7 separate regions of the Homo sapiens genome follow, and all the other regions are reported to be linked to region 1. Evidence: microRNA targets listed by miRTarBase, many of them from high-throughput screens and not tested one by one. Region 1 holds a microRNA gene; each other region holds the end of a gene's coding sequence.
What was found. The annotated mature microRNA hsa-miR-6086 reads GGAGGUUGGGAAGGGCAGAG and lies in region 1 at 1,868-1,887, shown strand. An mRNA with a match to its seed (bases 2 to 7 or 8) in the 3' UTR can be bound and repressed. Matches are read on the target gene's strand: a 7mer-m8 pairs with bases 2 to 8, a 7mer-A1 pairs with bases 2 to 7 and ends in A, and an 8mer does both.

Region 1 (4,332 bases):
GTATTTAATATGTGTAAGGAAATAATCACAGCCCTCCACTAAACATACAATGCAAGTATTTTCCTTCAAAGTCTGGTAGCAACCCTGTCCAATACCAGGACAGTAAGTAGGTAAACATGCAGTGAGCTTCATCCATGGCGGCACTACTTGGGGGCACTTGGTGGGGGACAGGGGGCTCACCTTTTTCAGGCATCTAGATCAGGCAAGCTACAGCCTGCTGGCCAAAGCTAGGTGATCCCCTCTTTATAAACAGCCCATGAGCGAAGAACAGTTTTTACATTTTTAAATGTTAGAAGATGGAGCAAAAGGAGAATACCATATCATGACACAGGAAAATTATATGCTATTCAAATTACAGTGTCCATAAATAAAGTTTTATTGGAACACAGTCATGCGCATCTGTTTACTATTGCCTATGGCTGCTTTTGTACTTGGACAGATATCTTATGGCCCTACAAAGCCTAAAATACTTACCATCTGGCTTTTTACAGAAAATGTTTGCCGATCTCTGCTCTAAAATTAAGCAGTTTAGCAAATTGGGTTTCCAGGAGGTCAATGGGAACGAGCCCTGGGCTAGAATTCCCAACACCCAGCTCTGCTGGGGATGTGACTCCACTCCATTGGACTGGAGTTTCCTCCTCTGTAACATAAGAGGGCTTTGCTGAACGAGCCCTTCCAACTCTTAATCATCTATAGTGTATGTTGATTCCAGTCTATTCAATGGTTCCCAGGTGCCAGTGGGATAAAAGTGCAGAGCTCTGGTCTGGGACAAAGCCACAGGATTAGAAAGTGACTGAAATAGACAAAGAACTGGATAGTTGCTGTGCGTATACAGAGCAGATCTGAAAAGTGACACTCTACAAGGTTCAAAAACATATACTTTGGACATCTTCATGTGCCCTAGTTTTATAGATTCTTTTAACCGTGGGGAAGAAGGAAATGGTTGAAACTAATTATTGAGGAAGGCTGGCAACCCCAAAATTCAGGTTTTCAAAATCTAATTTAGCACTTACTGCGGGTTCGTTGAAATTAACCAGGTAATTGACATCTCTGGTTCTTTTAGTAGTAGGGAAGAGTTTCTGTTGTCTTTTCTATTTTCTCAATACTAACATGTAGTTCTTTATCTGCAGTGCAAGGCATCACGGGTTGTTAGCATCGGCACGTCAGCCTGGGGTCTGTCACTATGGAACTAAACTGGCCTGCTGCTACGGCTGGAGAAGAAACAGCAAGGGAGTCTGTGAAGGTAATTTTGTAAAAACTCAGACCCTGCACTTGGATCAGGGCCCTTAGGTTTTTATCTGTCATACCATGAACTGCCACAAAATTGCCAGTGGATCTCTCAGGCAAGGACATGCATAACTACCAATAACCAAGGTCTGGGTTCCTATGAGATCTCTTCCCAGACAAAATGTGGCTGACGCCATCATACTTGGCATGATTTATTTTAGAAGACTGTCTTGTCAATTATTTTTGTGATTATCTTAATGAGTATGACTGGGTTGTTTGTTTTTGGTTTTCTTTTTAATCTAAAGGAACTAAGATGGGCAAAAGCAGGCTGGTAAATTTCTCCTCTAATTATAATTTAAGTGATTTCCAATGCAATAAACTTTAATTATTAATCACCCAACCAGTAGGCTTCAGCCACAAAATAAGTACACCTTTTAGCTTATAGATTTGTAACTCACATTTTTAAAATTCATACTGCCAATTTCTAAATGCTTTCAAGGTACATATGCATATATGCAAAGATTTTAAGTATTTTGCTGATTTTTTTGTACATTGCAAACCAAGGAACCATAATTTGCCTTGGACATTGTTTCTCAGACTATGTGTTAGGAACTCCGAGAGAGGCCTCTGATCATTTCAAGGAGGTTGGGAAGGGCAGAGATGAGCATAAAGTTTTTGCCTTGTTTTTCTTTTTATGACTTTCCATAACGACCAACACTGGCAGTGTAGCAGAACCAAATCCACATTCCTCCTGACTGTCTCACCAGGGGTGTATTCCTTCAGGGCAGTAGTCTACTCTCACTGTCCCTGTGTCCTTCAGTAGGTAGCATGTGCCTCATCCTAAGTTATTTATCTATTAAATGGGATAACAACACAGTTGCAGGTCCCATAAAAGCACTAACATGTTAGCTATTTTTAGGAATAACAATGCTACCTTCTTTTTGCTAGTCTGTTCCTGCCCCAACCTCCTTCTCTCTGGCTGGTTAAAAAATATCTGGATTGACCATAAGTGGGGTCAGAACTTGATAATATCCAAAATCTATAAAACAATAGAAAACATTGATATCGTTCCCACATGTTCCATATTATGCAAAACCTTCTGCCATCATAGTTTGCTTGTGACAAGATGACAAGAGCATAAAAATACTAGACAAAAACAAAGATCATCATTGCCCACTTAGATAAAGGAAGTTAGAATATCCTCCTGGGACTTGTGTCAATTAAAAGGGTGGGTCCTCATCCTGATTGGATTGATAGTGTCATGATCAAGGGCATTGAGAACCAGACTGACGTGGGTGACCTTGGGCAAGCTAGCTAAGGTAAGCTAGCTAAGGCTCAATTTCCTCCTCTGCAACCTGGAGAGAGCAATACCTACCTCTGAGAGTAAGGAATGTATGCATTAAAGGGTGAGTTCATTACCTGGCATGCATAGAAAATACCTCATAAATTACCATTCCTTCAGGAAGGACCAATAATTCTCATCACAGACTTCTCGTCATTAAAGCACCAGGTGATGGGGGGATTAAATGTGGCTTTATTCTTTTGCTAGACACAACATAACACATTTTTATTTGAAGTCAGTCAGGTGGAAAGGGGCAAAAACCACGTGAAACACATGATTTAGAGTCTCTCTTACAGTTGCACGAACATCAGCGTCTACTGCCATAAAACTTGTGAGACCCAGCATGTCGCTGGTGAATAAATGAAGGCAAGGTGTTAAAAGGGCAAGTGCAGGGGGTTCAAGCAAAATGCTCACTATGCAAGTTTTGCAAGCTGAAGAGACGGTCAGCACACCTACTGCTCCAGTCAAATGTTCAGGTCTTAAATTGCAATGATTTTTAGATCTAAAATGTGTATCATGTTTTATCCAATTTGCATGGTCCTTCTTGATGGTAAAGTCATGTTTCTTGAAGCACCAAATAACAGGGTAGTTATTCCCTGATTGCTGGGTTTCTGATTTCTAAGCCAGAGTTGTGGGATGCATGATAATAAGAATACACATCAACCTGCCCCAACAAGGAGAGCCAGACCCCAGGCTGTGAGGTCACAGTCTACCCAGGCCTTCCCCTCTGTCCATCTATTTGCCCTTCACTCCTTTTGAAGCCCTGCCTCTATGTATCCTGGAGCCTTCTAGCTCTCAGCCTCTACCCTGTCTAAATCTCCTCCCAAGGCAGGGTCTCATCAGTTCGATATCATTAACCTTAAAATGTATGCCACTTCAGTGAGATGAAATACAGAATTGTCCATAAACAAGTACCTGATGAAAAGCTTCAGATAGAGAAGTTTGGGGGAGAACCAAATAAGACTTTTACTTTGTCTAAATCATGCTTCAATCTCAGGCCATTTTAAACACAAACTGAATTTCCCTTGCTGTCGATTGGCTGTTGAAGTCACAGATCCAAAGTTACTGTAAATTGAAAACATCTTACTGAAGCTTTAACCTTATAGCAAGGGTATTATTCACCATTTCTCCTATGTTCTATTTGGCATTTATGCTGGGCTTTCCTGTCTGGACCACATTGGAAATCAGTTTCCAGGGAACAACTAGAGGTCTTCAGGGCTTAAAAAAAAAAAAAAAGATTTATTTTTCTAACATCTGAATTTAAAGTTGCAACTCCAAGTACATATCCATAACAAAGTAGACACTGGAAATTAAATTCTCTCTCTTTTGTCTCTAAAAGTGGAAAAACCTTGCTGGGGAAGCATTTTTCCCTTATGATTTGTTCAGGGCCATAAAATGTTCCCCCATTAAAAGTTCTACAGTAATTACTTTATTCATTATTCAAAAATATTCAAATATTTAACATGTTTACAACACTATATTAAATGCTACAGGGGAAACAATGATGAATGTTTAAGTCCCTGTCCTGAAGGCACTTGGAAACAAGTAGTGGATGAAAGACAAGCACTGTAGCCAAATATATGCCTCATTATTTAATAAGACAAAAACTGATCAGTTGCACAGGAGAGGCCTGCCAAAGTTCTGTGGAGTTCTCGAAGTTGAGTGGGCATTCATAGGTGGCTGGAGAAATCTGTAAAGGCTTTTAGAAGAAGGGGCCATGCAAGGTGGTCCTTGAAGAATGGGGAGGATATGAACTACTGGAA
Region 2 (4,000 bases), not on the chromosome of region 1:
CGAGGTCTGTATCGCCATAGCTTCATGTACCTGTGAGCTGTCCCTCACGATTCTAGCCTCCTCCCAACCTGGAGCCAGGATGGTGCTAAGGTGGTGGGGCCTGTGTGTTGCAGAAAACCCGCTACGAGACCTACGTGCAGCTGCTGGTGGCCCGCCTGCACTGCCCCTCTGATGCTCTGGACCTGTGGGAGGAGCAGCTGGGGAGGGAAGCTGGAGGCACTCGGGAGCCCAAGCTCAGCCTGAAGAAGTCCCACTCGAGCCCGTCCCTGCACCAGGATGAGGCTCCCACCACGGCCAAGGTGAAGCGCAACATCTCAGAGCGCAGAACCTACCGGAAGATCATCCCTAAGCGGAACCGCAATCAGCTGTGAAGCCAGCACCACCTCAGAGACACTGTTCCCTGCTCCAGGGTAGACCTGAGATGAACCTCCCTGGAGGAGACTTATTTCAATGAGTCCACCATGACGGATGAGGCACCTCCTTTCCCTGCTGAAGGACAAACCTTGTTTCCCTGTGGCCCTCATTCTTGTGCTCCCTGAAGCTTTCCTAATATTGCTGTGCTCCCCACCACCCCCATGGCAGTCCCTCCGCAGCCCCAGTCCCTGGCCACGCCCAAGGGAAGAGGGAGGTGAGGACTTGACTTTCCTCCCAGAGCTCAGCCCATGTCACCCTCCAGGCCCCAGAATCCAGAGTGGCCTCATTTCCTAGACTTGCTGAGAACTCAGCACTTGTTTGAGAACCAGTGCTTATGTGGTGTGCCCTTGGCTTCTGGGGGAGAGCTTGGGGCAGCAGAGGCCCCTGGGCAGCCCAGCCAGGGGAGCCACAGCCCCAAGGATGGTCTTGCTCTGGGAATTAGGTGACCTTCCTGGGGAGGCCCCAGGAGAGTGAATCAGGGACTCTTGAGAAATTCCTAACCAGCCTCCTGTGACCCAGGGAGCAGGGTCGCTAAGGTCCTGCCCACTGAGGGGACAGCCTTCTGGGCAGGGACCTCGGGGGGCTTCAAGGGCTCTGCACGGCTGTGGGGCCCTGTGCCTTTGTCTCCTTGTGTCTCCTTTCCCCCGAAGTAGATGAAACAGTCTCACATACCCAACTGCTCATCAACAGAGCAGAGCTGATGGCATGAGTGAGGGCTGGGCGGGGTGGGGCCTCCAGAGCTTTGCAGGGAACCCTGGAACCCTAGGAACAAGGAGCCTTTGTTCCAACAGAGCAGAGAAGGAGGTTCTCTATGTTCAGACCACTGGAGAGGATAGAGAGGTAAAAGGTGGCGACAGTTTCCCTTAGGGGTCTGCCTGGCAGGAGCCACAGCTCAGGAGAGTTGTGAGGGATGGGACGGAGGCTGGCGACCAGGCGAGGCCTAGGCCAGGCTCGGGAGACTTTTCTGTGCTCCTTTCTACACATGCCTTAAACCTTCCTTCCTGTGGGGTGCCTGGACCCCTTCCCCATCTCTGGCAGCTCAGAGGGTCTCTGCTGCTCTCCCCTGGGAAATCCCCTCATCCTGCCCTCTGGCTGCCTCCCAGCTGGGCTTGTTCTCTGAGGGAGGTTCCGGAGACTCATGGACTTGGGGCTCTGCCTGTAGGAAGGAGGCTGGGCCGGAGGGACCAGCCACCATTGTCTCTGTTCAGCCAAGTGTGCAAGTAGGCTGCCCGCCAAGAGGGGGCCTCTGCTACCCGCTGCTGCCTGCCGGCTGACACACTGCCTCCCCAGCCTTCCTGCTAGGCCACCCTCCTCCCTTCCCATGCTTGTAACCAGCTCTGGGGCTTGCACCTCCACAAAGTAAGGTTGGCCCTTGGAGGCCATGTTTGGGTCTCCGGCCAGGGCCTAGGGCTAGGCCATGCACCCAATGGGTGCACAATAAATAACAGGTCAACAAAGAGGGAGGTGTGTCAGTGTGTGAGGAAGGGAGGTCAGGCAGCTAGGACCACCTGCAGTGTGGCAGGCTTCATCCCTCTTTGCTCCAAGTGTGTATGTGTGTCTGTGCATGTGTGTAGTGTCTGTGTCTGTGTGTTCATGCATATGCAGGAGTCACACGGTCATAGGCCATCAAAGCTGGAGGAGACCTCAGAATCATTCATTCACCTACTTGCTCATTTATTCATTCATTCATTTTGCAGATAATATGGGACGCTTTCTATGTGCCAGTACCAGGGGATTCACAAATGAATTAAACATGTCCCTGACTCCATGAGTTGACAATCTTGCCCACTGGTTTCCTGCTCTCAGTTTACAGAGGCACTTTTATCTTGCTGGGGAAGTGTGCTGAAAAGACACATTCCCAGCCCACACCCAGGGATGCTGATTCAGTCAGCCTGGGTCAGAGGGATAGATAAATATGTTTAAAGCTCCTTGGGTAATTCTGATGTGTAAGTAGCAGTTAGCTGCAGTAGAGTCCAATTGCCTCATTTGATTGAAGTGGAATCCCAGCATCAAGTGGACATGACTTTTGGCCCAAGACTGATGCTTACAAACTAAGTGGAGTAGGTTATTTGACCTCACTGAACATGCATCCTTTTTTTTTTTTTTTTTTTTTTTTTTTTTTGGAGACGGAGTTTCGCTCTTGTAACCCAGGCTGGAGTGCAATGGTGTGATCTTGGCTGACTGCAACCTCCACTGAATCAAGCGATTCTCCTGCCTCAGCCTCCCAAGTAGCTAGGATTACAGGCGTGTGCCACCACGCCCGGCTATTTTTTGTATTTTTAGTAGAGATGGGGTTTCGTCATGTTGGCTAGGCTGGTCTCGAACTCCTGACCTCAGGTAGTCTGCCTGCCTCGGCCCCCCAAAGTGCTGGGATTACAGGCGTGAACCACCACACCTGGCCTATGCATCCTTATTTCTAAAACCATGATAAAAGGTGAAAGTCTGAATGCATGTGTGTGTGACACTTTGATGCTCCTTTGCTCATGTAGAACCGGCACCTCTCTTTCACCTGAGCACGTGGAATCTTCAGAGCCAGATGATGGTGGCTGCCTGGCCTGCCATAGTCAATGCTGCCCAGGCACCTCTGCCTGGAGGGTCTGGGTTGTGGGCTGCAGTTATGACATGTGACCACTTGGAGGCAGGCTTGCATCTTTCTAGCTTCTGGCTGCTCAGGTGTCCTGCTGTGGAGCTGAGCTGTGCTCCCTGAAAGGCAGGAAGTTATTATGTGTGCCCCTGTGCCATCACCGAACCAGGACCTTCAACTTCGTAAAACCCACAGTGGCCTGGGCCAGGACTCCCACCATCTAGGGAAGCCTCTCCTAGGGAAAAGACTGGGGCTCTGACATCTTCCTGCAGATGGAGAGAAAGAAAGACATCTCAGAAGTCTATGGGGACAGCCTACAGCTCCCCACAGGGTTGCTCCAGGTAACGCTGGAAGGTGAAAGCTGAGCAGGCTCCAGTCCCCATCCTAGGTATGGAACAGATCAAACCACCACAGGCCTATGTCTGACCTTGTTCCCACCCCATGCTCCTCTCCCACCTGTGTCCTTCTCTTTGCAGGAGAAGGGACAGACAGAGGTTCTCAGTGATGAGCTCAGGCTCTGGAAGGGCACTTGAAGTTTGGCTTTAGTTCTTCCTTTCCCATATAGGGGAGCTCAGCTTCCAGGGTCCTGGGCCTGCTGTGACCCAGGTTGTTACTCCTGATATAACTGCTTCCTGGGCTCTCATGATCTCAGCTGAGCCTGGCTTTCTGCTGATGATATTTGTTTGTTGCTTGCCAGGCACCAGGGTAGATAAAAAGATCACCAAGACCCGCACCTTTTTCCTTAGGAGGGTCTGAGTCTTCAGGAGACGGAGACATATGGAATGTGTCGGGGTTGGAAGGAGCAGGACTGGAGGGTCGGGGTGAGGGGGGCAGAGGGAAACAGGGCCGTCAGGGTGGCCTGAGGCCAGATCATACAGGGTCTCCAATGCAGCCAAGGAGAGTGGCTTTTTGTGAATGTGCAGTGCAACTTTTTTTTTTTTTTGAGACAGAGTCTCGCTCTGTTGCCCAGGCTGGAGTGCAATGGTGCGATCTCAGCTCACT
Region 3 (4,332 bases), not on the chromosome of region 1:
TCTAAATGACACTGAGAAGGCCCCTTCAGCTCCTTTGTAGGTATGAACAAAACGGGCTATTGAAGACATGCCAGGACCACAAACTCTTGAGAGAAAACGGCATGTGGAAAATTTGTTTCAGCAAAAGGCAATTTGGCACGTATTCGTAGAGAATGGGATTAGATTTATTAAACGGGGAACCCCCAACTCCATCTGGTTCTCTCTGCATCAGCACTGGGGAGGGCTATGAGGAGAAAGAGCTAGGGATTATTTTTTGGCTTTCATGGATTTCTTCCTCAGGGATCAGATATAAAATTTAGACTGACCTTCGTTTCAGAAATTGTAAGCTGGACACCATTGGCTTCCTGATGGTTTGTGATCTCTTCAGTCACCTCCATAATGGAGTGACCAGCTCTCTTTAGCTTCTTAGAGATATGTTACTGTTGGCCGGGTGCAGTGGCTCACACCTGTAATTCCAGCACTTTGGGAGGTCAAGGTGGGCAGATCACAAGGTCAGGAGATCGAGACCATCCTGGCTAACATGGTGAAACCCCGCCTCTACTAAAAAAAAAAAAAATACAAAAAATTAGCCAGGCTTGGTGGTGGGTGCCTGTAGTCCCAGCTACTCAGGAGGCTGAGGCAGGAGAATGACCTGAACCTGGGAGGTGGAGCTTGCAGTGGGCCGAGATTGTGCCACTGCGCTCCAGCCTGGGCGACGGAGCCAGACTCCGTCTCAAAAAAAAAAAAAAAAGAAAGAAATATATTACTGTTTTGTGTGTGTGTGTGTGTTTTTTTTGTTTTTTTTTTTTTTTTTTTTTTTTTTTACAGTGACAGTGAATCCTAAACCTGAATGGCGCTCATGTTTTCCAAGAGAAGCAGCCCCTGAGGGAGTCTGCTGAGGCTGCCAACAGAGGATGAAGAGGATACAAATTTAATTAATTTCAAATCAACATAGACACAAGAACCTTTTGCTGTTTCTTCCAACGCCCACTCTTCCTAATGATGGCATCACTTGCACTTGGAAGAATGTGCAATTGAGAAGTACTAGGAAAAGGCCTGGCTGCCATCCATCGCTGCCTCTGAGGGTGGAGAAGGAGGCGGGTGATGTGCTCACTTCTGATCAACATGTGTTGCCTCCTCTCAGCCAACTTCTAGCTCACTGAACTCACTCTGGTCATGATAAATGTTCGTCACCTTTCTGCTTCATTCCTTAGGGCCTAAATCAGGAAGCTGTTTTATCGATGGTTTCCTTTTGGGTCAGTAACCAGCTTTGGATAATTTCCTCTGATTATTCAAGTCGTGGGACAGGTAAACTACATTCAGCAGGAACTTTTCTCGAGGAGTGTTATGTCATGGAAAAGACACCAAACACAGCAAGTATTTTAATGAATACACCATCCCAGGGGGTCAGTAAGCTCTGCCTGCCAAGAAGACACAGTGAGAGGGGTCCACAGTCCTGATGAGGTGGCGTTTGGTAACTTGTAGACCCTAGCATGGCCAGGTCTGGTCACCCTTAAGAACTTCTCAGAGAAACTAGGAATCTTCAGTGAAAGAACTAATGTTCTCCTCAGCTGAAATTCCCTTGCTTGTCAGCATTTCTGCAAAGCTCACACTTGTTTCACCATACCTCCCTTGGATGTGACATGTAGGTAGGAAGTATGTGCAGGTGGGAGTCATCTGTCAGCCTTCTATGTTTCAGAGATCCTGAAGGTGGTTTGAAACAAACAGAAGAGGAGCAGGAAATATCCGTGCCTGTGGCAGATCTCACTCATCATGCTTAGCATTCTCTCCCGCCAAGCTGGGATAAGCCTCATGTCCTAACACAGCACAACAGGAGGTCTCTGTCAGTCCATCAGAGATGACATTCTATGTGATATTTTTGACATCCTTGTGCTAAAAGCAATGGCACAAAATGGAAAAGGGCCTATTGACCACACCTACTCCAGTAAAATTGTTCTTCATTTATTCCTTAATTTTCTAAATCTGACCCCTTTAAAGCAATCTAGCAAATTGAGAATCCTCAGCTCTCCTTGGATACCTGATATTTTATTTCAAGAAAGAGACAAAGAAGGAAAATTTTATTTATTTTACTACCCACATATAAACCGAAGGGAGATGGGACTACCCAAACATTTGCTGCTCAATTTTGTGTCTTGTGCTTGAAAGTCTGCCCTAATGCATAACAAAAACTACTTGTCTCCTACCTTTTGGGATCCCTTTAACAAGTATTTGCCTTCTGAACTACGTGGATAATTTCAAAGGCAGAGTTCCAGACCAGAGAGGTCTTTCCATACAATGAAAGCTATAACTAGCTGGTTGTGTTTAACCACTGCTATCACGCTATCCTGGGACTGCATAGAACTTTGACAAAAGACAGACTTCATGGTACACAACTTCAACAGATTTTCTGTCATATTCTCACCAGCACATCTGAATGAGGCTTTGTGTTTTCCTTGCTCTCTTGCATGTTCCTTTTCAACTCATGGCCCACAGTGACTCTCAGATATTTATGCCAAAATTGCATACAATTGTTTTCTGAATCATAACTTGTCTATTTTTCTGCCTATGTGTGCTACTTTCAGTTTGTTTCTCATCAACATTTTGACTCTCAGAAGAGCCTCCATTTGCCCCTTTCTCTCTTTAGGTATCTAAGATCTTTGAACACCTGGGCCTTTACATTTGATCCAACCCTATCAAATAATGAACTTCTCAGAGAGGCATCTGGGGTCCTGGAACTTCATGTTGATGAAGTCATATTATATAATATGATAAAAATATTCTCATGCAGTATTTTAAATAATTTCAAATTCTAGAAGAAGCAAATTTCAGCGACATGTCATTGAGTTTTTATTTGGTAAAGCTATAATTGTGCAGTGTACAAAGCACTTTTTAAAAAGATAGTTTATTCTGTCAGGGTATATGAAGTTAGTATACAGCCAGAACAGCCAAGCCTCAATTCTTGTACCTTGTGTCTTTTTATTACTGTTTAATCAATAGATATCATATGTTTATGACAGTTTCAAGAATTGTTTTTAAACCCAAACTTAATTTTATGTTTCAGACTATTGTTAAAAAAACAAAACAAAAACCAAAAAAACCCTCACTAATTTGCCCTAATTGGATAGGGCAATCAGAACAAAATCTGACTTTCGAATATTTAAAAGATATGTAAGTTTGATTGCATTTTCGTACATTTTAAGCAAACTAGGTTAACAACAACATAGCCTAGTCAAACTTCTCAGGAAACTTGTTTTAATAAATATGTAAAAATACCCATTCATGACTCTTGACCCAATGGTGTGACTCCTCCCTCTGGGAAGGGCTTTGTTACCCAATGCAAGACCACAGCCTGGATCCACCTTGATGTAGGTGGCTCCTGGATAACCCACATCAAACAAATGTGATAAAGATGAGTAAAACTGGTCTTGGGAAAATAATTTCATAGTTTTTTTTTCTCCTAGTTATGCTGTATAATACAGGAGAACCAAAAGCTGTAAAATTATTTTATTTTATTTTTTAAAGACAGGGTCTCACTATGTTGCCCAGGCTGGTTTCAAACTCCTGGGCTCAAGCAGTCCTCCTGTCTCAGCCTCCCAAAGTGCTGGGATTACAGGCATGAGCCACTGAGCCCGACCAGCTGTAAAATTATTATATTCATTTTCACTATGTGCTACTTCTTCTCACCTGACTTTTTTTTTTTTTTTTTGAGATGGAGTCTCACTCTGTCACCCAGGTTAGAGTGCAGTGTCACGATCTCGGCTCACTGCAACCTCCGCCTCCCAGGTTCAAGCAATTCTCTTGCCTCAGCCTCCCAAGCAACTGAGATTACAGGCCTGTGTCACTATGCCCAGCTAATTTTTGTATTTTTAGTAGAGATGGGGTTTTCACCATGTTGGTCAGGCTGGTCTCAAACTCCTGACCTCAAGTGATCCACCAGCCTCGGCCTCCCAAAGTGCTGGATTACAATTGTGAGCCACTGTGTCTGGCCACACACTGACTTTCACTGTAATATCTGGATGTTTTATGTAACATATCTGGGCAATAGGGCTTATGGCAGAATTGGCCCTCGTGGTGTAGGCCTTCCAAGTTCCAAGTCTCATTTTTAGTATTCCTCCGTTCCAACCCCTGGATCCACCAGTTCCAACAGCCTGGATCCACCTTGATATTGACAGCCAGGCAGATGCTTCTGCTGATCACCGCAGCTCTAGCAATGGAAATGGATATGTTAAGAAAATACTTGTCTATTCTTTTATTTTGGTGGTTTAAACTATTAATTCACACCATCTCTGAAAAAAGGCCTTATGTTGACTAAAGAAAACATAGGCTTTAGTTTCAGCTTCTGTCAGAATTAGT
Region 4 (4,332 bases), not on the chromosome of region 1:
TTCCCAATATAAACAACAGCTTTTCCAAGTCAACCAAAAAGAGTAGAGTTTTGCACCAAAAACTGACAATCTTGTCTTTTGCTATTAAAAACCTATGGTTAGCAATTGCTAAAGAACTGTGGAGACTCTAGAAAGAGGGGGGTGGTACATATGTTCAATTCTTTTTTCCAAACATGTCAATAGAACAGAAGGTACAGTAGTTTATGAATGCCAGAACTAAGCAAACTAGTGGTTTGCTTTTTTTAACATGCAAAAAATTCTTCACACAGTATTAATTATATTATTTTTCAAGTGCATTGGGTTTGACTGTAAGAAAATTAATTATTGGGACCAGAAATTAATAAGACATGATTAAAAGTTCCTCCAGCAAAAGTCATGTTTGCAAACTACCTAACTCAACCCTGATTACCCATATGTAGAAACTTCACACTTACATCACAATTAAAGACATAAACTGAAATTAGTTGGCTGATTTTTGGCTTCCTCTGATTAGTCATTCACAGAGCAACAGTGGGACCTTAAAACTAACAGTTTTCCCAGCTATTTACCTCTGGAGTTCTGTTACGGAACTTGTTGGCTTCAACAATGAAGGGAAATTGTGCTGCCTATATCCCATCAATTAAAAATAGGATAGGAATTTATTTTTGACTATAGTAGTTCTGCCATTCAATTGGTACAAGCAGAGGGTAATGCTGGTTAAATTAAGACTTTTTTTTTTTTTTTTTACAGTTATACTGTGGAAAGTTATTCAAATTTCAAATTTATTTACAGTGTTTGAAAAGCACACAACAGAAGATCTTCATTTATGCAACAAGTCAATCATTTGCAGTATGTATGGAAAATAAAAATCTAAGGTAAGTCAAACATACAAACTCTACCTCTTGCTTTCTCCATTAGAATATACACATTGGAAATCTAAGTTCCAAACAGTTCCTCTCTACTGAAGATAGTGAAATTTAGTGCAAGCCCCCTAATTACCAATTTTTTGGATGCTTACAAAATGTTGAGCCTTGATGGTGGAAGAGGATTCTATTTAAAAGAGATGACTATATTTTTAAAAGGCTAAATTGACTCAGTTTATTTTCAAAAGAAGGGTTGATCCATGTTTTCAGTTTATTGCCATACAGAAAACATTTTATAAAATAATATGGTAGACTTCTACTTCAACATATTCACGTAAAAACATCACAGTGCAAGAAAGTGATCACAATTAAGCATGAAGACATCAAAAGCCAGCCAGTATTTTAACTACAGAGCAGAATATTCTTGCTGTCCCTTCCTAGAAAATGTTGGCACATTCATTAACTGCTCAGGTTACAAAAATCACTTCGTGTCCACTTCCTGTCCTTCAATATATTTTCATAACTACACTGTGTTACATTAATGCTGGTGGACAAATTAGCTCCTATAAAATCTAAAAACCTTTCAGGTGGCACAATGATTTAAAACCAACTAGGAAAAAGCTCTCCCAGAATATTTTTGTATGTAATATTCTGTCCATTACCACAATAACAGAGTAAAAAGCTGTTTTACCTTAAAAATAAGCTAAAGGAAGATAATTTCATTTTTCCTTTAAAACATTTCTTAGCTTTTAAATAGAGAGAAAAAGTTTAAATTTTCTTGGGGGAGGAGAATATTTCATAAGTAAAAACATCAAATGTTGTACAAATGTTTCATTTAGGAAACAAATACTTAGATTCAAAGGATTCTAAAACATTTCAACATTATAAGAAAACTGTAATTTAAAGCTAAAAAATTGTAATACATCGAACTAATATAAATTACTCATTAACATGTTCTATTGTTTTTCACAAAATCCATAATTAAGGAATAGTGGGTTAGGTGAGACATTTTTCCCAACATTTGGTCAGATTAGCTAAGCAGCTCTGGGCAAAGGATGCCTCCTCTGAATCAGGATCTTGGCCTCTTAAATGAGGGCACTGGACTAACTGCCCATTCACATCCCTCTAATCTACACATTTATCACAACTGTTCATCTTATATAATCCTTCCAAGGATGAAGTGTTTCAACTCAGTGTATTTTCCAGACAAAGCTCCCCTGTTTAAGTGGCAAAACTCTTCTTTAAACTTTAAAATTTTTACTTTAAAATGTTATTTCCAATATTATTTCCTGCCACCTTAGAAGATGTTGAGGGATAACTAACAACACAGTCTCTAAATGACACAGTCTCCTGGACTTGCCAGCTGATGACAGGATCTGCAGATACGTCTCAGGCTCTGCTCCAATTCTGAGCAACTCTGGGCCACACTGAGTGAGAAAGAGAATGATACCACCTACACTGTATCGCTTTGTTTCAAAGACCAATAGAGTTATAATATATCAAAGTATTTGTAAAGTACAAATTACCATACAAATGCCAAGGACTGCTGTAATAAACCTAAGCAAACTTTTCCCTGATAATGAAATCTGGATAGTTTTAGAAAATATATGTTGTTTGTCAAGACTTGTGCAATAGGCCATGTGTGGTGGCTCACGCCTGTAATCCCAGCACTTTCAGAGACTCAGGCAGGAGGATTTCTTGAGCTCAGGAGTTCAACACTAGCCTGGGAACATACTGAGACCTCATCTCCACAAGAAATCAAAAAATTAGCTGGGTGTGGTAGTGCACAACTGTAGTTCCAGCTATATGGGAGGCTGAGGTGGAAGGATTACTTGAGCCCAGAAGATTGAAGCTGCAGTGAGCCTTGACCATGCCACTGTACTCCATCCTGGGCAAAAGAGCGAGACCCTGTCTTGAAAAAAAAAAAAGAAAAAAGAAAAAAAGACACGTGCAATGATGGCTCTGATGCTTTGGTTACGTGGCATTTTGTTCTTCTGCTTCTAATTATGCTTCTAATTGCACCAGGTGTGGGATTCAGTTTCTGTCTCCTCGAGTCTATAAATCTGACTTTAAATAGGTGGAAACCAAAACCTACAGATGTTACTTTAGCAAATGCTGTGTCATCACTGTTTACTTTGAAAGAGTGGTTCCCAACCTAGGGTAGGCATCAGACTTACCTTGGAAGCATTTTAAAAAGTGAGATTTCTAGGCTCTAGCCCTAGGGATTCCGATTCAGTGTATCTGGAGTAGGATGCAGAAAAGCTCTATTTTTTTCCAAAAGCTTTCTAGGTAATCTCAACAAGCAATCAGTTCAGTTTTGGAGACATATTACTTTGCCCTCAATTTCTTCTCTATTTTAGTAGCTGCTAGTTTGTTTGTTTGTTTTCAGTATAAAAATTTCCCCTTGCATTAATCAGAAGTACACTTAGAAAAGATGGCCCATGATTTTGGCATAGATCCACAGAGAGCTAGTCATTACACTTCTTTACAATAAAATTTAAAAATGGTAAATTAACCTCAGAGCTAAGACAATGCATGTAGACGCCGAAGGGTGGCTGGTTCTGTGATTACAGGCCAACTGTTTTCTGCTTTACTTGTAGTCAAGTCACTGATAAACATGAAGACCATATTACAGCTGTCACTACCGAATAAAAGATGGCAGAACTCCTCCAAATAACAGGAAGATGGCTAACCAGCTAATCACTATCATTTAGAAAATGTTTCTAGCAAACATAAATGAAAGTATTTCTTAAAAAAAAAAAACTAGTTTCCTATAGAAACCCGAAGATTTCCACACTTCTGAAGTCTACCACAAAGTGAAAAGTTGCCCAAAACTACAGTTGTTTAAAAATATGTTCAATTAACTGTGAAAATATAAGTGTAAAATAGGTGCAATTTCATCCTTTAGGAGGTTTAACGGGCACAAATGGAATTCAGTTTCCATTTATTCTACTCAAATAGTTTTGTGAAAACGATAAATAAAGTACTTGGTATAATATAGTTCTGAACACCATACCTTCCAAATTTAATACAAAAGCCACATTTGGATTTTCCGATGTCCCAAGTGTGTCTAGGCACTGCGGAACGTCGTCATGTCTTTGGGTTCTCTGCTGGGGACGCACCAGTCATCAGCCTCGTGGTTGGTGTTGTAATGCTTCCAGGCAGCTTTGTTATACACTGGGAGTCTTTCTATTGAGTCTGTTGACAGAGCCTGAAAAAGAAAAACCTAAGACCTATTAAGTCTGGCATTTTTTAGAATTCATTATTTGAGAAAATAGACAATGGCAAAAAGGTTACGACAAATTAAATAATATTCTATTAGTATCTTATTAATCCTTATACCACCTAAATATACTTTTAAATGGTATGTATATTTGAAACGTGTTATTTATGAAATCTATGGCACTGACTGATGTGCAGGTTGACTGAGTTTGTTGCTTACAGTAATTCCCCAGCCATCCTGGAAGCTGCTGGACTGAAATTTTACACA
Region 5 (4,332 bases), not on the chromosome of region 1:
AAACTGCAGCACCCTTTGTTGAACCTGCCCACCACTGACTTCCCTCCCCTACCTGAGGTTTTCTTCTTACTCTACTCCCCTGCCCAACTTTATTGCCTTGACCATGCTCTTATATCTCCAAGCCTTACTCCCCGGCCTCACTGCTCCCCCACCCCAACTGCTGTCCTCCTCCCTGCCAATCCACTGCCATGGCTCAGTCTGCTTCTCTTCCTTCTCCCCCAGGAGACTGAGGCATGCCCTGTGGCCCTCACTTCCAGACCTGCACCGGGTCCTAGGCCAGTACCTTAGGGACACTGCAGCCCTGAGCCCGGTGAGTGTGCTTCCCTCCCCTGTGCCCACCACCAACCCTGCCTGGTACTGGATCCTTGCCCCAACAATACAACTTGTTCAAGGTCCTTGCCCTACCAGTGTGCCATCCCCAGGCACTACCCCAGCACTACCCCAGCCCTTCTCCTTCCTGTACAGTCCAGCCCCTCCTCCCACAGGATCTGCTTTAATCCAGCGCCTCTCCTCATCTCTCCCAGCCCAAGGCCACAGTCTCAGATACCTGTGAAGAAGTGGAACCCAGCCTCCTTGAAATCCTCCCCAAGTCCTCAGAGAGGACTCCTTTGCCCCTGTGTTCCTCCCAGGCCCAGATGGACTACCGAAGATTGCAGCCTTCTTGCCTGGGGACCATGCCCCTGTCTGTGTGCCCACCCATGGCTGAGTCAGGGTCCTGCTGTACCACCCACATTGCCAACCATTCCTACCTACCACTAAGCTATTGGCAGCAGCCTTGAGGACAGGCTCCTCACTCCCAGTTCCCTGGACAGAGCTAAACTCTCGAGACTTCTCTGTGAACTTCCCTACCCTACCCCCACAACACAAGCACCCCAGACCTCACCTCCATCCCCCTCTGTCTGCCCTCACAATTAGGCTTCATTGCACTGATCTTACTCTACTGCTGCTGACATAAAACCAGGACCCTTTCTCCACAGGCAGGCTCATTTCACTAAGCTCCTCCTTTACTTTCTCTCTCCTCTTTGATGTCAAACGCCTTGAAAACAAGCCTCCACTTCCCCACACTTCCCATTTACTCTTGAGACTACTTCAATTAGTTCCCCTACTACACTTTGCTAGTGAAACTGCCCAGGCAAAGTGCACCTCAAATCTTCTAATTCCAAGATCCAATAGGATCTCGTTAATCATCAGTTCCTTTGATCTCGCTGTAAGATTTGTCAAGGCTGACTACTCACTTCTCCTTTAAATTCTTTCCTACCTTGGTCCTGCCTCTTTGAGTATATTAGTAGGTTTTTTTTATTTGTTTGAGACAGGGTCTCACTCTGTCACCCAGGCTGCAGTGCAATGGCGCGATCTCAGCTCACTGCAACCTCCACCTCCGGGTTCAAGCGATTCTTGTGCCTCGGCCTCCCTAGTAGCTGGGATTACAGGCGCACACCACCACACACAGCTAATTTTTTTTTTTTTTTTTTTTTTTTTTTTTTAGACGGAGCCTTGCTCTGTTGCCAGACTGGAGTGCAGTGGCACGATCTCGGCTCACTGCAACCTCTGCCTCCCGGGTTCAAGCCATTCTGCCTCAGCCTCCCAAGTAGCTGGGAGTACAGGCGTCTGCCACCATGCCTAATTTTTTTCTATTTTTAGGAGAGACCGGTTTTCACCACGTTGGCCAGGATGGTCTCGATATCCTGATCTCGTGATCCGCCTGCCTCTGCCTCCCAAAGTGCTGGGATTACAGGTGTGACCCACTGCGCACAGCCCCAGCTAATTTTCATATTTTTAGTAGAGACAGGGTTTTGCCATGTTGCCCAGGCTGGTCTTGAACTCCTAACCTCGGGTGATCCACCCACCTTGGCCTCCCAAAGTGTTAGGATTACAGGCATGAGCCACTGCGCCCGGCTGAGTGTACTAGTAGTTAAGAGAATAAACTAGATCTAGAATCAGAGCTGGATTCAATTCCTGTCCTTCACATTTACTAGCTGTGCAACCTTGGGCACATAACTTAATGTCTTTGAGCCTTAGTTTTTTCATCTGTAAAACAGGGATAATAACAGCACCCCATAGAGTTGTGACGAGGATTGAGATAATCTAAGTAAAGCACAGTCCCTAGGACATAGTAAATGATTCATATATCCGAACTACTGTTATAATTATTCCTTCTTACTCTCCTCTTCTAGCATTTCTTCCAATTATTACAGTCCTTCAAGATTCCATTTCTTAACAGTCTCCAATCCCATCTATTCTCTGCCTTTACTATATGTTGACCATTCCAAAGTTCTTATCTCTAGCTCAGACATCTACTACAGCACTGTGATGCTTTATGCAACTAACTGTTTACATATCTGTCCCCTGCTACTAGATTGTGAGCTCCTTGAGGGAAAGGAACATGATTTATTTGTCCTTTTCCCCCAGCACCTAGAGTAGTGCTTGGTGCATGATAGTAGGCCTTCAATAAATTTTTTCTAAATGAATGAAATCTTTCTGGACAAGGTTACCTTAATCCCATGCCAGCTGTCCTCATCCTCTAAACCGTTCATAGGCAGCAGTAAATGTGCTCAGACAGTTCTGATTATGGACTCTCCTAACACATTCTAATTCTCAAACAAATGGTTTTGTTGTCATTGTTTTTTCTGGCTCCAAATATACCCACTGTATCAGTCAGGGTCTTGGAAGAAATAGATGACACACTCAAATTGGGTAATATGATGACAGTGTAATAAACGGCAAACAGTATTTACAAAGATGAGGGCAAGATTTGGGAAAACCATCAAGGAACAGTGCAAGTGCCTCTGAGGCTAACAACAACAAGGTGCTGGCACTAGCCCTAGGCATCAAGGGGTAAGGGAGGGAGTGGTTCCCAGATCACCAGAGAGTAGCTGTAAGACAGGGCTGCCAGGAAGGAGTCATGGCCTTTCTTTGGTGGAGGGGTGCAGCCAACCTATGGGCAGGTGGCAATGAGAGATCCAGGGGGATAGACAGCTCAATTTCATGCTCTTCCCATTCCAGTCTTGAGTCCCTAGGAGTAAAGTCAGAGCCTTTCATGTGGCTGGGGAGGAATTATGGAGATTGGGTATACTGGATGTCATCCATTTGTCCCACCCAGACCTATTCTCCATCCTTCTCCATCTTGTCCTATGCTTAGCAAGGCTGATTCATATGGCTGGCATCCAAGCATTCTCCTGGGCTTTGGTTTCTGCTTGGGTTCCAACAGTAGGAGGATATTATGGATTGAATTCTATTCCTCTCCTCTCCCTCAAATTCACATGTTAAAGTCCTTTTTTTTTTTTTTTTGGCCGGGCCCGGTGGCACACACCTGAAATCCCAGCTACTTGGGAGGCTGAGGCACAAGAATGACTTGAAACCGGGAGGCAGAGGTTGCAGTGAGCCAAGACCACACCACAAAAAAAGATAAAAGTTTTTTTGTTTTTTTTTTTTTTTTTGAGACAGGGTCTTCACTCTGTCGCCCAGGCTGGAATGCAGTGGTGTGGTCACGGCTCACTGCAGCCTCAAACTCCTGGTCTCAAGCGATCCTCCCACCTCAGCCTCCCAAGTAGCTGGGACTACTGGAATTACAGGTGTGCACCACTAGCTTGGCTAATGTTTTCTGTATTATTATTATTTTTTTTTGAGATGGAATCTTGCTCTGTCGCCCAGGCTGGAGTGCAGTGGCGCGATCTCGGCCTACTGCAAGCTCCACCTCCCGAGTTCACGCCATTCTCCTGCCTCAGCCTCCCGAGTAGCTGAGACTACAGGCGCCCGCCACCATGCCCGGCGAATTTTTTTTATATTTTTCGCAGGACAGGGTTTCACCGCGTTAGCCAGGATGGTCTCGATCTCCTGACCTAGTGATCCGCCCGCCTCAGCCTCCCAAAGTGCTGGGATTACAGGTGTGAGCCACCGCGCAGGCCTGTTTTCTGTATTTTTTTTAGAGACAAGGTGATACTATGTTGCCCAGACTGGTCCCAAACTCATGAGCTCAAGCAATCCTCTGGCCTTGGCCTTCCAAAGTGCTGGGATTACAAGTGTAAGCCACCACACCCAGCCAGATGTTGAAGTCTTAACTCCCAGTACTTCAAATACGACCTTATTAGGAAATAGGGTCATTGCAGATATAATTAGTTAAGATGAGGTCAGGGCCCTAGTTCAATATGATTGGTATTCTTATAAAAAGAGAAAATTGGACACACATACACACAGAAAGAAAGCCAAGTGAAGATGAAGGCAGAGAACAGGGCGATTCTTCTATAAGCCAAGGAATGACAAAGATTGCCGGCAAACCACCACCAGAAGCCAGGAGAGAGGCATGGAACAGATTCTTCCTCACGGTTCTCACAC
Region 6 (4,332 bases), not on the chromosome of region 1:
GGTGCCTGACACCACGCCTAGCTAATTTTTGTACTTTTAGTAGAGATGGGAGTTCACCATGTTGGCCAGGCTGGTCTCGAACACCTGACCTCAGGTGATCCGCCCACCTTGGCCTCCCAAAGTGCTGGGATTACAGGTGTGAGCCACAGTGCCTGGCTATAATAACCATTTTAATATGTGTGTGTATGTCATTAACATCATGTCGTATACCTTAAATATATACAATTTATTTTTTAAAAGCTTATACAAACTATATTATCAGATAAGGGGTTAATTTCCACAATATATAAGAGCTCAAGTGATTCTCCTGCCTCAGCCTCCTGAGTAGCTGGGACTACAGGCGTACACCACCAGCCTGGCTAATTTTTTTTTTTGTATTTTTAGTAGAGACGGGGTTTCACCATGTTGGCCAGGCTGGTATCAAACTCCTGGGCTCAGGTGATCCTCCTGCCTCGGCCTCCCAAAGTGCTGGGATTACAGGCGTGAGCCACCATGCCCGGCCCTGAGTGTAAGTATCTTGAATGTAAAATCAGGAAACCCTTGACTGCCTTCAAACACATGGGGAAGGTTCAAGATCTGGAACTTGTTTTCTGTCTCTTCCATTTTGTGAAAAGCTACAAAATCAGGAACCCCTATTCCCTCACAAGGACAGCAGAGTCTGGCCTGGTCTTGGGCTGGCATAGGTTCAGCTCAGCCTCCTGCTCTTCTGCACTCATGACCAATAGGAAAAATCTTCAAGAACTGCATGCCTGTGGGGAGAAAAAGCCCACAGCTGCCTAGAAACACCAGTTGGCAGCTGGGTGCGGTGGCTCACCCCTCTAATTCCAGCACTTTAGGAGGCCGAGGCGGGCGGATCACGAGGTCAGGAGTTCGAGACCAGTCTGGCCAACATGATGAAACCCCATCTCTACTAAAAATACAAAAATTAGCCGGGTGTGGTGGCATGTACCTGTAATCCCAGTTACTCGGGAGGCTGAGGCTGAATTGCTTGAACCAGGGAGTCGGAGCTTGCAGTGAGCCGAGATCACACCACTGCACTACAGCCTGGCAACGGAGCAAGACTCTGTCTCAAAAAACAAAAACAAAAACAAAACCACCAGTCGGCATAGGGCCTTGCCTGCCCCCTCGCCAGCAAGCTCTGTTAGACATGGGAAATCCAGGTCACACATGCCCCTGAAGTGAATGCAGAGCTAACTTACACTGGGCTCCTACTTGCCAAGTGGATTCAGCCACTAGACTGGCAGACAACTGGCAAAAACTGAGCATAGAACCACGTTCCCAGGAATGCCATGCACGAGAGAAAGACAGGAATCTGTACCCGAAGCCGGGGAGGACAGTGGGTGGTCATCTCTCCCTTGACCCACATTGGCCAGGGGGTCCCCTCCCACTCGAGGTAGATGACTAAACCGTGAACCTGCTGTTTTAGGGATTGCCACGGTCACCCAGGGTGATTCCAGCCATCTTCCTCTCAGATGGACATGTCTTTTAAATATCATCATTATTAAGGGATGAGCCATTTCTAATGCTGAACAAAATGAAAAGCACATGGGCATAGGTACTCAACAGATGTCCTTGGGATAAATGAGTGTTTGCTTCTCTCCAACACCAACTCCAACGACTAACTTGGAGAAGATTGTCTACGATCATTATAGCAGCTTAACTGTGCGAATTGGCCACTCACTGGTATTTTGTTTTGTTTTTTGAGATGGAGTCTCACTCTGTTGCCCAGGCTGGAGTGCAGTGGTGTGATCTTGGCTCACTGCAACCTCTGCCTCCCGGGTTCAAGTGATTCTCCTGCCTCAGCTTCCTGAGTAGCTGGGACTACAGGCATCTGTCACCATGCCTGGCTAATTTTTTATATTTTTAGTACAGACAGGGTTTCACCGTATTAGCCAGGATGGTGTCGATCTCCTGACCTCGTGATCCGCCTGCCTCAGCCTCCCAAAGTGCTGAGATTACAGGCATGAGCCACTGCGCCCGGCTGACTCACTGGTATTTTTTAACCATAGTATTTCCTGTGCCTGAGCGCAAATAAATAGTAGGCATCAAACCAATAAAACCATGTAGTAACAATTTACAAAAATACATCTTTATTGTGTTCCAATGTTGTTGCATTATACAGATACCTAGTTATATAAACTTGGTCTTCATGTTAAATATAAACACAAAAAAACTAGAAACAAATCAGCAAAACCATCAGAAAATCCCTCTGAGCCATGAATCCTTATTAAAAATGTATAGTGGGGGGTACCTGTAGCTGTATGTTGAAGCAGGAGGACTGCTTGAACTCAGGAGTTCAAGACCAGCCTGGACGACATAGCAAGATGCCATCTCTTTAAAAAAAAAAAAAAAAAAAAAAAAAAGGGCCAGGCACAGTGGCTCACGCTTGTAATCCCAGCACTTTGGGAGGCTGAGGTGGGTGGATCACCTGAGGTCAGGAGTTTGAGACCAGCCCGGCCAACACGGTGAAACCCCGTCTCTACTAAAAAATACAAAAATTAGCTGGGCATAGTGGCGGGCACCTGTAGTTCCAGCTACTCTGGAGGCTGAGGCAGGAGAATTGCTTGAACCCAGGAGGCAGAGGTTGCAGTGAGCCAAGATCGTGCCATTGCACTCCAGCCTGGGCAACAAGAGTGAAACTCCCTCTCAAAAAAAAAAGTACAGTGGGATGATGAAATTGTCTTCAATCACCACACTCCGAAAATAGTTAACTGTAACCAAACGTAAATGTTGAAAGCAGCAATAAAGACAAAAGCGATACAGAATAAAAGCATGGCGGGGCTCACCATATCCAGGGGATTGGGCAAGTCAGATGCTTGCCGACCCCTCAGCAACCTGTCTTGTGCAAAAATGATCAGGGACTCCATCATTAAGCCCCAGGTTACCTTCACCAGCACCTGCAGGGGAACACCCCAGAAGACGAGCCCCATGGCTTCAGAACACACATTTCAGAGGACCAAAAGATGAGGAAGAGATCCACTTCACTCCCCAAAGTCTCTTGCGGAGCCCTAACTCAATCACTCAGTGACCAAGAGCTGGCAATGTACTGAATATTCACAACTGCAGCAAAAGGTACCCTCAAACATAAGGCCCAGAAACTCTTGCTGAATTTCAAAGTAGAAACGCTTGAATGTTAACCTCGGGAGCAGACATGTTATTGCGACTGCATACTGAGTCGGACCTGTTTCTCCTGCGGGTTTTGAGTCTAAGTCCACAAGGGGCCTGGGAGGCAAGCTGTCCTCCTAGTCGTCTCTCCAAGGAGTTTGAACACAGAGAGAGCCCATCATCCCTCCGCCTTTCATTGCCATCTTCAGCGATTCCAACGGCTGGAGGGAGAGTCTGGGAAGCACACAGGCCCCAAACCTGACAGGGCCGAGCCCAGCCCTGATGGTTTCCCTTCCTTGCTGGGACACAGCTCCTTCCAGCAGTTGAGAAACTCAAGGGACAGTCCCTCTCACGGGGCTGGAGGATCCTGTGGACAGCCATCCCTGTCTTTAGGCAGGTGTGTGTGACGGGTCAGTTCCGAGACTCCGAGGCTGTGGGGCTGCGGACCGTGGACATGAGGTGTGACTTGTAGGTCTTGCTCAGGCCAGTCATCCAGAACTTCAGCAGCTTGACATTGTCCTCCTCGGACGCACCCAGGATGCTCAGCAGCTTCTGTGTGTCCTCTTTGGGTCGACTGTCCACCTTGGTGAACTTAAAAAGCACCTTCACTTTGCTGAAGAAAACCAAAACAAAACACTCAGACACCACAGCACAATCCCTCGAGCCCTGGTCACGGGGCCAACCAGGGGTGACACGGCTTTGGCACCAGCAGGAGCTGTGCAGGCAGAGCTGGAATCCACACCCTTGGGGCAGCAGGCTTGGCCCCTGAACTGCTGAAAGGAGCTGTGTCCCAGCAAGGAAGGGAAGCTGTCGGGGCTGGGCTCGGCCCTCTGTCGGGTATGGGTATGGGGCCTGTGCGCTTCCCACACCCTCCCTCAAGCTGTTGTCAAGACGCCAAGAAGAAAGAAAAACCTTCCTTAAACTCGTGGAAGACACTGGTTGCTCCTAAGCTTCACTGCATGATTTTAAATCAGGACAATGTTTGATTAATAAATTTGACCCAAAAAATTACCAAGAATCGAGGCAGGAGGAAATAAAGTAAATTTGCTTACAAAAAAAAAAACCCGGGGGGCCAGGTGCAGTGGCTCACGCCTGTAATCCCAGCACTTTGGGAGGCCAAGGTGGGCGGATCACGAAGTCAGGAGTTCAAGACCAGCCTGGCCAACATGCTAAAACCCTGTCTCTACTAAAAATACAAATATTAGCCAGGCATGGTGGTGGGTGCCT
Region 7 (4,332 bases), not on the chromosome of region 1:
TTAGCAATTTCACTTCATTTGATTCTCCATCTGAATTTACACTTTCCATACAGTACTACTCTGGGGCTCTGAAGAGTTAAGAGAAAGAAATCCTCTTTAGCCATATGGGGAGGGAAAGGGCCACAGTCCTTCCAGCCAAGAAGGAATGGTGGTGAGGAATCAATAACAGGCAAGGGCGGGAAAACGGGACAGCTCCTCTGGCACTCCAGAATGAAAGAAATGAAAATGCATCTGTTACATTTATATTCAAATATATAAACACCTGCTCCTGATAACACAAATGATTTGGAGATAGTTGTGATTTGAATAGACTGTAGCTCTGTCTCCTGCTTCTCCTCCTCCTGAAAGCCCTAGAATCTCTCAAAGAGGGTGACCTTTCCTTTTCTCTTTTACTGAAATGAATTGTAATGACACTGATAGAGCTGATTTCCCTGGTGATTAGGTAGGTGTTAAATGTGTCCATAAAAGATAACAAGGTGGTATACAATCCAAAGGGGATGGAATTAACACTTGGTATTGAAAACGAAGATGAAAATGCCATAGATACTACACCAAGGGGAATGGCAGATCTTCACCCAACATCTGGGATCTTGATACCTTTCATTATAACTTACAGGTTTTAAAAATTCACATGCCAGAGCCCCTAAGGAAATCATAGTGTTATAAAAAGAACTGAATATACAACTGGCAGATAATAAAATTAGACATATTTAACTCCTTAGGCATAGAGAGCCCAAGTTTTTTTCTTTTTTTAAAATAATAGGCTCATAGCTATTTACACACATTTAAAATACTCTAGAACCACTTGATCATAAATTATTCGCTATCATACAAATTCATCACATAACTTAAGGGTAATTGTTGGAGCAAATGCTTCTAAAACAAGTTTTGAGGATATGACAGACTAGTAAGTTTATTTTAATAAAAGTTATTTTAATAAGAAATAACTCAGATTAAAAATAAACGGGAGGGGAGAAAAAAATAAACTGAGAAAGTATGCTTACACAAATTTTTTAAAAAAGCGATTGCTTGGCTGGGTGCAGTGGCTCACACCTGTAATCCCAGCACATTGGGAGGCCAAGGTGGGTGGATTGCTTGAGGCCAGGAGTTCGAGACCAGCCTGGCCAACATGGTGAAACCCCATCTCTACTAAAATTACAAAACTTAGCCAGGCATGGTGGTGCAGGCCTGTAATCCCTGCTACTCAGGAGGCTGAGGCAGGAGAGTCACTTGAACCTGGGAGGCGGAGGTTGCAGTAAGCCGAGATTGCAGCCTGGGTGACAGAGTGAGGCTCTGTCTCAAAAAAAAAAAAAAAAAAAAAAAGTTATTGCTATATTTCTGAGTTTTTTCTTAGTCAAATATAAATTCCTATCTCTGTTTTTAATTTACTACTTCCAATCCCCTATGTATGTGGGCTGAATGATAAAGAAGTCTCTACCTCTTGTAGACCCTGGAATTGGGAAAAACAGATCTTTCTGATTTGTTCTTTGTGCTTCCTAACTTCATTACGTTTTATGGACTCCTGAAGCAGTGATTGTTTCTACCAAAAATCCACTAACTCTTGATTATGGAACTCAAGTCCATCTAAAAGTCAAAACAAAAACCATTTCTGCAAATATTGTTGACAGCTATTGCTATAGAATAAGACTGAGAAGAATATTCTTAAATTCCTTTATACTGTACTTCTGGATGATAAAAGTGGAATAATTCCTGTTAATTTTATCAGCAATTAATGGAGATTGACTTAGTTTAGATACACTATATAATTGATAACATGTAATACATATCTGTTATATGTATAAAACATATTATATGAAGGCCAGGCATGGTGGCTCACGCCTGTAATCCCAGCATTTTGGGAGGACAAGGCAGGCAGATCATGAGGTCAAGAGATCGAGACCATCCTGGCCAACATGGTGAAACCCCATCTCTACTAAAAATACAAAAATTAGCTGGGCGTGGTGGCGCACACTGGCTGTAGTTCCAGCTAATCTGGAGGCTGAGGCAGGAGAATCGCTTGAAGCCAGGAGGTGGAGGTTGCAGTGAGCTGCGACTGTGCCACTGCATTCCAGCCTGGGTGACAGAGTGAGACTCCGTCTCAAAAAAAGCCACAAAAAACCCCCAAACCAAACATATTATATGAATATTTGTGTTCAATAAAACAATAACACAATAAAAATGATGTTTTATTATTAAAATGATCTTACAATGTCAACATCAATGTTAATAAAAATATATAATAGGCTGAATTCATCAATGATAGAATAAGTTGTAATTCACTTGGAGGTTCCATCTTTCAAAGTAAGCCTTTCATAGATAAATGAAAATCCTTTATTTTGTAGAATTTTAAAGATTGTTAAAGGCTGGGTCAAGGCAAAGCCACCTCTATTAGAAGGGGAAAGAAAAGCAAGATGAAACAAAATATGTTATCATACATATCGCGTGTGCTATGAGCATCTTTCTACTCCTGCCAGATTGAAAATTCTAGGTTTCAACATTCTTCAGGATTTAACAAGTCAAAATAAAAGCAGAATTCAAATCTAGACAGATGTAAAAGACTTCAGTTTCAAATTGAAGTTGATATTTTTCCTCTTCATAGTATTTGGACTTTAAAATAAAAAAAAATTAAATCTTACTCTCTACTAAGGTATTTATGTATTGAGATTATGGGTTCTTTTCATATTGAATTTTAAGAGATGCTGCTTTGCTGTCTGCATTTTTAGGCTTTTAGGAGCAACAACATTTATGTACAATGAATCAGTACAGGGTTGGTGACATGACCCTTTAAAAGCAAAGATACATAAAAAAGATTTTTTTCAAAAAATATTTTAACACATAGGGGCTTGCTTTGTATATACATGCTATAGTTAAAGACAAAATGTGGATTAATTATTATATTTGGGAAATAGATATTTATTTGCACTAATTAGCTGTGTGTGTGTATGAGAGAGAGAGAAAAAAAAAGAGAGAGAGAGGTTATTTTTCAGCTTAAATAAGACTGTAACTTCCTGAGAACTCTCTCTAATTGGGTAAAATACTGATTGAGATATTCAGTCTCCTTACCAGGAATTGTAAGAAAGTCTACTTTGTACATTCATGAGAAGCTGAAATAGATTATTGTGTAATAACCGAATGGAACATCTGTTTAACCAGATGTTTTAGTTGAGAGAAGTGTAAACATGATTCTAAATGTATAAATATGTTGGTTATTCTTCCTTGTCTGGGAGGTTGTGCCAAAGTTTACATAGATTAGAGGAAAGGCTGGGTCTGGAAAAATTCAAAAATATTACATAAATGCAGAGAAAGTAATACAATAAGGTCAGTTGGCAATGATTTTAACAATTATTTACAGGGCCTTCCTTTGCTTCACCTCATGGCTCACATACAAGTGACCTGAGTCACTCCATCTTCCTGATCAAACTGTCCGTCGTCTAATTCCCGGAGGACGTTGTCACTGCTGCTGAACCCAGAGAAGCTGTTGTGCTGTGCCAGCCTTCCCTCCTTTGTCCAGCATTCCCGGGAGGGAGAAAGGCGGCACTCCTCAGGCAGGTGTCTGCTCTCTGCAGGTTGTGACGAGGTTGTGTCTAATCCGATGCTTCTACTAGTGGCTTTATTCTTGTCTTCACCTTTTATGTGGCGGCTGGCTTTCTTCTGAAACACAAGACATTGGTGACCAGGAGAGTTAAAAAGATGGGTGTTTCCTGTCCCTCTGGTCTAGCACATGCTGCCTTTCTGCCTCCAGGAATGTCCTTTTCCCCAGCTCTTCAAAATCCTGCTCATCTTCAACGACCAGCTCAGAGCTACCTCCACATTCCCCTCTCCACCCAAATACAAATGAACTCCCTTCTCCCTGTTTTGTAACTCTTTGTAGGTTCCTGGCACATCATTCTTGTTGATGGGTATGTTATGTACACATCTCGGCCCTCAGTGACATCTCTAAGGAAGGAAATTTGTTGAAATCATACTTTGGGAGAACAAAGCAAGGTATAAATACTAATATGTTTTTCTTCTTAGTGTTAGTTCAGATCTATACAGCAGAAAAGGTGCTTTGATGGCCACCTTACACCCATGTCATGTAGACACAGGCTGCACAGAAGAGTCACAGTGATATGGTTTGGCTGTGTCCCCACCCAAATCTCATCTTGAATTGTAACTCCCATATTTCCCATGTGTTGTGGGAGGGGCCCAGTGGGAGGTAGTCAAATCATGGGGGTGGGTCTTATCCCATGAATAAGTATCATGAGATCTGATGGTTTTATAAAGGGGAGTTCCCTTGCACATGCTCTCTCTTGCCTGCCACCATGTGAGACATGACTTTGCTCCTCATTTGCC

Region 2: miRTarBase lists PSD4 as a target of hsa-miR-6086. Seed matches in the 3' UTR shown: 7mer-m8 at 2,599-2,605.
Region 3: miRTarBase lists TMEM154 as a target of hsa-miR-6086. Seed matches in the 3' UTR shown: 7mer-m8 at 3,746-3,752.
Region 4: the mRNA of PDK1 is a reported target of hsa-miR-6086. The part of its 3' UTR that is shown has no 7-base or 8-base seed match.
Region 5: miRTarBase lists MPL as a target of hsa-miR-6086. Seed matches in the 3' UTR shown: 7mer-m8 at 1,367-1,373 and 7mer-m8 at 1,543-1,549.
Region 6: the mRNA of FLCN is a reported target of hsa-miR-6086. Seed matches in the 3' UTR shown: 7mer-m8 at 2,581-2,587.
Region 7: the mRNA of RFTN2 is a reported target of hsa-miR-6086. Seed matches in the 3' UTR shown: 7mer-m8 at 3,225-3,231, 7mer-m8 at 2,034-2,040 and 7mer-m8 at 1,247-1,253.

The regions. Positions count from the first base shown.
Region 1 is chrX:13,588,426-13,592,757 of GRCh38, forward strand. It overlaps MIR6086 (microRNA 6086), which reads left to right and starts at 1,867; the gene lies at 1,867-1,921. It overlaps EGFL6 (EGF like domain multiple 6), which reads left to right. Exons shown (of 12, transcript NM_015507.4): 2 at 1,131-1,243.
Region 2 is chr2:113,201,045-113,205,044 of GRCh38, forward strand. PSD4 (pleckstrin and Sec7 domain containing 4) reads left to right here. Exons shown (of 17, transcript NM_012455.3): 17 at 114-4,000. The coding sequence ends at 371. Among named protein-coding and RNA genes, the nearest start is that of PSD4, 29 kb to the left of the region's middle. RefSeq lists enhancers at 2,841-2,890, 3,231-3,280.
Region 3 is chr4:152,625,037-152,629,368 of GRCh38, reverse strand. TMEM154 (transmembrane protein 154) reads left to right here. Exons shown (of 7, transcript NM_152680.3): 7 at 808-4,332. The coding sequence ends at 823. Among named protein-coding and RNA genes, the nearest start is that of TMEM154, 53 kb to the left of the region's middle.
Region 4 is chr2:172,595,550-172,599,881 of GRCh38, reverse strand. PDK1 (pyruvate dehydrogenase kinase 1) reads right to left here. Exons shown (of 11, transcript NM_002610.5): 11 at 1-4,053. The coding sequence ends at 3,913. Among named protein-coding and RNA genes, the nearest start is that of PDK1-AS1, 41 kb to the right of the region's middle.
Region 5 is chr1:43,351,994-43,356,325 of GRCh38, forward strand. MPL (MPL proto-oncogene, thrombopoietin receptor) reads left to right here. Exons shown (of 12, transcript NM_005373.3): 11 at 223-310; 12 at 525-2,473. The coding sequence ends at 779. It overlaps CDC20-DT (CDC20 divergent transcript), which reads right to left. Exons shown (of 4, transcript NR_183650.1): 4 at 2,691-3,013. Among named protein-coding and RNA genes, the nearest start is that of CDC20-DT, 4.5 kb to the right of the region's middle.
Region 6 is chr17:17,210,139-17,214,470 of GRCh38, forward strand. It overlaps FLCN (folliculin), which reads right to left. Exons shown (of 14, transcript NM_144997.7): 14 at 2,074-3,718. The coding sequence ends at 3,517. Among named protein-coding and RNA genes, the nearest start is that of PLD6, 6.0 kb to the left of the region's middle.
Region 7 is chr2:197,568,630-197,572,961 of GRCh38, forward strand. RFTN2 (raftlin family member 2) reads right to left here. Exons shown (of 9, transcript NM_144629.3): 9 at 1-3,651. The coding sequence ends at 3,379. LOC124907952 (a long non-coding RNA gene) reads left to right here. Exons shown (of 2, transcript XR_007087918.1): 2 at 3,353-4,332. Among named protein-coding and RNA genes, the nearest start is that of MOB4, 55 kb to the left of the region's middle.